Linked DNA regions of Homo sapiens. The protein of the gene in region 1 interacts with the protein of each later gene in a biochemical or structural test. Each region holds a gene or a part of one and is shown on either strand. Other genes may lie near its edges.

What was found. Proteins that work in one complex are often made in the same cells at the same time.
Region 2: the proteins of CEP290 (region 1) and IQCB1 interact in far-western blotting, tested with the Homo sapiens proteins (one study listed by IntAct).

The regions. Positions count from the first base shown.
Region 1 is NC_000012.12:88,086,589-88,090,180, reverse strand, and holds part of CEP290 (centrosomal protein of 290 kDa), read left to right. Parts: intron 1-693; coding exon 694-1,149; intron 1,150-2,236; coding exon 2,237-2,401; intron 2,402-3,592. UniProt on the Homo sapiens protein: Involved in early and late steps in cilia formation. Its association with CCP110 is required for inhibition of primary cilia formation by CCP110.
Region 2 is NC_000003.12:121,825,016-121,828,607, reverse strand, and holds part of IQCB1 (IQ calmodulin-binding motif-containing protein 1), read left to right. Parts: coding exon 1-138; intron 139-2,427; coding exon 2,428-2,557; intron 2,558-3,592. UniProt on the Homo sapiens protein: Involved in ciliogenesis. The function in an early step in cilia formation depends on its association with CEP290/NPHP6.

The sequences.
Region 1 (3,592 bases):
GTAGTTAGTAAATCTTTAATAACAATATTTTCTCTTGTATTTATATGTAACTTTTTACATATTCTTACGTTATATATGTTGGGAATTATAAAAACATACACATTGTCCTGATCAGTATTATGTTACTTGCAATGGAGGTTAAAAAAAAACTGTAACAGTCAGGCATGGTGGCTCACGCCTGTAATCCCAGCACTCTGGGAGGCCGAGGCAGGCGGATCACGAGGTCAGGAGTTCGAGACCAGCCTGACCAATATGGTGAAACCCCGTCCCTACTAAAAATACAAAAGTTAGCCAGGCGTGGTGGCATGTGCCTGTAATCCCAGCTACCCAGGAGGCTGAGGCAGGAGAATTGCTTGAACCCGGGAGGTGGAGGTTGCAGTGAGCCAAAATCACGCCATTGCACTCCAGCTTGGGTGACAGAGTGAAACTCTGTCTCAAAAAAAAAAAAAAAAAACACCAGTAACATACCCACTGTTATTCAGTTACATTTGGATTTTAAGTTTGTTTGATTCTAGGTTTTTTCTTTTACAGTTCTTTGGTAATTATTTGTATTAAAGCAAAGTTACATTTTTGTAGATCTCATGTGCCACTGTGTTAAAACTTTGCTTAGTAAATTGTGAATTTTAAATCTGTGATAACTTTCACTGGAAAAATTTGAAACTTACTACAAATATATATTTTTTTTAATATCAGGCACAGTCTGATGAAAAGTCGCTCATTGCCAAGTTGCACCAACATAATGTCTCTCTTCAACTGAGTGAGGCTACTGCTCTTGGTAAGTTGGAGTCAATTACATCTAAACTGCAGAAGATGGAGGCCTACAACTTGCGCTTAGAGCAGAAACTTGATGAAAAAGAACAGGCTCTCTATTATGCTCGTTTGGAGGGAAGAAACAGAGCAAAACATCTGCGCCAAACAATTCAGTCTCTACGACGACAGTTTAGTGGAGCTTTACCCTTGGCACAACAGGAAAAGTTCTCCAAAACAATGATTCAACTACAAAATGACAAACTTAAGATAATGCAAGAAATGAAAAATTCTCAACAAGAACATAGAAATATGGAGAACAAAACATTGGAGATGGAATTAAAATTAAAGGGCCTGGAAGAGTTAATAAGCACTTTAAAGGATACCAAAGGAGCCCAAAAGGTAAACATTTAAACTTGATTTTTTTTTTTAAGAGACAGTATCTTGATCTGTTTCCCAGGCTGGAGTTCAGTGGTGCAAACATAGCTGGAACTCCTGGGCTCAAGGGACTCTCTAGCCTCAGCCTCCTGAGTAGTTGTAGCTGGCAGTACAGGTGCACACCACCATACCTACCTAATTTTTTAAAATTTTTAAATTTTTTTGTAGAGACAAGGTCTCACTTTGTCACCCAGGCTGGCCTTGAACTCCTGGCTTCAAGTAATCCTCCTGCTTTGGTCTCTCAAAAGTGCTGAGATTACAGGCATGAGCCACTGTGCCCAGCCAATTTTAAATTCATTATCTTCAAAAGAGTTACATGATAATTTCTTAATATATGCCTATATGAAAAATGCTTAAGATACAAATTCCAATTATGATTCATTAATTTAGATTTTATAACTTAGCAGTGTTGGCTATTTGAATGTCTATTATACGTAAAAATAAAATTAGGCTTTTCTAACCAAAGATTTTAGTGGGAATGTTCAGATTGTATAATAGCAAAGAATTTTAATTACTATAGGAAAATTTATATTAATTAAACACTAATTATTATATTTAAACATTGTAGTAGTTATCAGTTGATTTCTACTGTTCATAATTATCTTTGATCTACAAGTAGTGGGCCCACATTTACTTTTAATATGGTTTAATCTTCATTTAGAAAGAATTAAATGAAAAATAATTATCTTGCAACTACATCCTGTTCTCTAGGCTAGAAACATTTAGGATTTCTGTTTTTGAAAGTAATACCAAAGTTCCAATGACCTGCTTATAGTCAGTGTTCAATAAACGTATAACAAATGAAAGTGAATATTAGTGATGTCCATTCCAACATAATTTGAAGATTTTTATTGTAAAATCCCACATATTTGTAGAAAAGTCTATGGAAATCCTAAATAAGATTTTGTCATGTAGTTTGACAAAAGATAACATTGTGTCTTATTTTATTTTAGAATGGCCATTACTTTCAATTAAAATCATTATCATCAATGGAGGAATGTTATTTGTTAATATAGCATTTATATTTGTGTATATAAATTGTAAATCTTAGGTAATCAACTGGCATATGAAAATAGAAGAACTTCGTCTTCAAGAACTTAAACTAAATCGGGAATTAGTCAAGGATAAAGAAGAAATAAAATATTTGAATAACATAATTTCTGAATATGAACGTACAATCAGCAGTCTTGAAGAAGAAATTGTGCAACAGAACAAGGTTTTATTTTATATTTATTTCATTTTTTTCCCTAAGTTTTTTTTTTTTTTTTTTTTTTTTGAGATGGAGTCTCACTCTGTCGCCCAGACTGGAGTGCAGTGGCGTGATCTCGGCTCACTGCAAGCTCTGCCTCCCGGGTTCATGCCATTCTCCTGCCTCAGCCTCCCAAGTAGCTGGGACTACAGGCACCCGCCACCGTGCCTGGCTAATTTTTTGTATTTTTAGTAGAGACGGGGTTTCACCATATTAGCCAGGATGGTCTTGATCTCCTGACCTCATGATCCGCCCGCCTCGGCCTCCCAAAGTGCTGGGATTACAGGCGTGAGCCCCTAAGATTTTAAACAAGAATATTGCACAAATGACTATGTTATCCTTCTAATTAAGTGCACCTTCCATTACTAATTGATTATATAATAATTTGTTTTTTATTTTCTAAACTATTCTAAAAATTCATATTTATTTAGCTTTTATAACAGTAGTCTTAATCTTAAAAACGGCAATACATAAGCAACCTCATTTGGTAAGTTAATTTTTATTTTGATATTGGTTATTTGACTTTTCACAGTTCCACGTTTCTACTGGCTCTCACTGATAGAGTAAGAAGTCAGCTTCTTATAGAATAAAGTATATACTTCAGAGACAGATGAAATTCGTCAAACATATGACTGTCTCAGAGATTGTTCCCCCTGCTTAAATTGTTCTTACCCTAGATACCTTTGGTATTTACACTGTCAGTGCCTGCAGGTCTTAGCTCAAATGTCTTACCTTATCAGTGTATCCTTCACCAGCCACCTAATATACAACAGTAAATCCTACTATCCAGATTCCTAAATAGAGATTAATTAACTTAATTTTTCTCCAAAGTGCTTGTAACCTTCTGACGTATTACATACTTACTGGTTTATTATTGACTGTCTTTCCTTCGCCAGAATGCAAGTTCCGTGGTGACACGGACTTGGTTTTGTTTACTGCCATGTTTGTATTTCCTAGAATGATGCTTGGCACATAATATATGTCATCAAATATCTTTCGTATAGCTGAACGGATGGATGGATGGATGGATGGATGGATGGATAGACTGAAATCCTTACTTCACATCTGCCTTTGTGATCTTACACAAGTTACTTCACCTCTCTGAGTTTGTATTTTTTTCCATAAAAGGAAAATAATTACAGTTTCTTCAATGTGTTG
Region 2 (3,592 bases), on another chromosome or scaffold:
AAGCTCAGAGTTGAAGAAAATCAAACAAGATATATATTGTTATGATCTCATTCAATATTGCCTCTTGGTCCTCAGTCAAGATTATTCTCGAATCCAGGGTGGTTGGACTACAATTTCCCAGCTTACACAGATATTAAGGTAAAATAAAGCAGTAAGTCAGCTGTTCTTGAGGGATGTAGTAGTTGATTCTGATTTTCAACATTTGCTTTTTATTTATCTGCCTAACAAGCATTGGCAACCTCCTGTTGTAGGTTTTGGTTGTACTTTTCCTTCATATTATATGTTATTATTCATAATTTTACTTCAGATTATTTGACTGTCTAAAATTTTCCTCCACAAGCTTAATGAAGATGGTGATCATTTTTTTTCTCACCACTGAATTCCAAGTGCCTAATATACTTTTTATTGATTAAGGAATTTTTAAAGAAGTGAAGAAATTAAGGCACTGGCTCTGTACCTGAGAAACTTAAAATAGAGATTGGGTGACAGTCATGTAAGTATATGATACAAAGCAGAATGAAATCAGTGCTAAAATGAAAGTATGCAAGCAAGTACTATAGGAGAACTGATAAAGAAACATTTTATTTCACTATATCAATGTAGCTATCAACTGTGTATTTCATTAAGCAACCCAAATACTGTCAATAAAATTTAGAAGTAGAATTTACTGATCTACTGCCATGCTAGAAATTAATAGAAGAGAAATAAACATTTTTTAAAGGAGGTAGTAAAATAAACCAGATGTTCTTAGTGCCTAAGCTACTTCCTGATTAATAAGTGAAAGTGTGTATTTACTAACTGGATCCTAGCCTTCTTTTTTTGTTTTTCCTAAATAAGCCATTTGAATTTAATAAGCTATTCCCACTGAAAGGGTTTGTCTTGGATGCTAGATTTCTAAGCTGCTTAATCCTACTGTGTTACTTGGTAAAGGCCAAATTTAAAGCACACAGTTACAAAGAACAGTTGAAAAATATATGTGATATTCTTTTTCATACTTTAATTTTCAAGATTGATTTTCTTAAGTAAATAAAGCCTTATGTTTTTGTTTTGATTCGATATGCTAGTTTATGATGATATTGATTAAGCCAGGCTCTCGGGTGGAATTCAAGACTTAAGAAATTCCCATGTTTCTGAATGCACAAATAAACATAATTTCATTTGTTAATCTTCTCAATCAAAAAAGATACTCTTAAGTAATTAACTTTAGGAACCAAAGAGAAAAGAAAAGCTGATACATGTGAGCATTAGCCCATTAACTTTAGGAACCCAGGTGCAAATAAACAACAACAACAACAAAAAGTGATACATGTAAATATTATCCACTTAGGTTTTTTTTTAACTTTTATTTTAGGTTCAGGGGTACATGTGGAGGTTTGTTTTATAGGTAAATTGCATACTCAATGTTTGTTCTCACTTATAAGTGAGAATATGCAGTGTTTGGCTTTCTGTTCTTGTGTTAGTTCACTTAGGTTAATGGCCTTCAGCTCCATCCATGTTGCTGCAAAGGACATGATCTTGTTCTTTTTTATGGCTGCATAGTATTCCATGGTGTATATGTACCACCCCAAAGAAATATACCATTTTCTTTATCCAGTCTGCCATTGATTACTTAGATTTTTAACATGCTCAATACATAGTTGTTATTGCTTATTAGTGTCCATACATTTTGTTGAAAAGACTCAAACAGCAGTTTTTGTTCATTAGAGTACACACATAGAGACCATTCTTGGGTTTGAGGCTCTTTTGAATGTTAGTTTACAGAAAAACCTTTTATTATTGGGACTTCTGACTTATGTACAGGAAATGACTTTTATGTACAATTTTAAGAGGACCTTTTTCTCTAAGTGACTTTCTCTCCTCTAATGTATATTGTAAAGTGTTCCTACTAGAGTTAGGTTTTGCCGTTTGTCCTTCTGATATAAGGAATATGCAAATGAGTATTTTGCAAAAAGTAGATCTATTGGAAGGTAAAATTGGTATGAAATTAGTGTTTGGTTTCCTTATGTATCCCTTGCAAACAAATCCTACTTGGGCATTTTTCAGCTATTAGGTGTCTAAAATGTATTAGTTAACACAAATGCTTTTCATAAATTAAACTCTCAAGGTATCCTATAGCTTTGAGAATGATTATAGCCAATTCACTGAAAACTTAGCTTCTCTTTATTGTGAGCCAAGTGTCTTTTATTTGCTGAATGAGCTGATATGTAGGTTTTTAGGATACATAAATCCCAGACCTAAGTACAAGCATGGTCCATACCACTGTTTACTTTTCTAGAAAGTTGTTAGACTAATTTTTCAACAAAAATTCTTTATTGTCTTGGTAACAAAAGAAGCATACTAAAAATTCTCAATAAGGCACAGTGTCTCTAGAAGCTTGAGCATTCAACATAAACTTCTAATTAACACGAACTTGTGCTCTTATTTCAGCCATTGCTGTGTGGGCTTGGAGCCAGGAGAAGATGCAGAGGAATTTTACAATGAATTACTTCCATCAGCTGCAGAAAATTTTCTAGTTTTGGGGAGACAATTACAAACATGTTTTATCAATGCAGCTAAGGTATGTGTTTATTTAGTCTTTTGTAGCTAAATCAGTTTAATTCTTAAGAAGCTGTTCTGTTATTTTTTAAATGTGCAATATTTGGCTGAAAGTACAATTAAAGTAGTGAATTTAAACATTTTCAAAGTTACAACCTTCCAAAAATCATCTCTATGTTTGAAAAATTTTTAATGCTGACTGAAGCTTGCCATTTGATTTTTTGAAGGATCTGCCTTGCTACTTTACTTGTTGGGCAGCACCCATAGACAATTATTTCCATAACATCTTTCTAAACATACTTTTTACTTAAATTAACAGTAGAGGAAAGTATGTTCTCTAGGGCTAGGGCTTTTCTAAGTAGCTCCAGTAGTGAAGAATAAAGGTGAACTTCCTATTTGATCTCTCATATCTTCTCCAGTCAAAATATTCAACCCAAACATAGGGGTCTTTTCAAGTATTTCTTGGTTGCATTATGCTAGATGCTATACATGTGCTCTTTTTTTGACCCAGGGATTTAGAAGTGTGTTGCTTAATTTCCAAATATTTGAAGATCTACTAGATACTTTATTGTTATCAATTTCTAATTTAATTATGTTTTGGTCAGATAACATTCTCTATATCATTTCAATCCTTTGGAATTTTTTCAGACTTGTTTTATGGCCCTCCGCATATGTTTTATCTTTGTGAATGTTCATTAAAAGAAACTTTTGTGGGCTGGGCGCAGTGGCTCACACCTGTAATCCCAGCAGTTTGGGAGGCCGAGGCGGGCGGATCACCTGAGGTTGGGAGTTTGAGACCAGCCTGACCAACATGGAGAAACCCTGTCTCTACTAAAAATGCAAAATTAGCCGGGCATGGTGGCACATGCCTATAATCCCAGCTACTTGGGAGGCTGAGGCAGGAGGATCACTTGAACCCAGGAGGCAGAGGTTGCAGTGAGCCAAGATAGTGCCATTGCTCTCCAGCCTGGGCAACAAGAGCAAAACTCCATCTGAAAAAAAAAAAAAAAAGAAAAGAAAAAGAAACCTTTGTTTTGCACAGTTCCATCTTAACTGA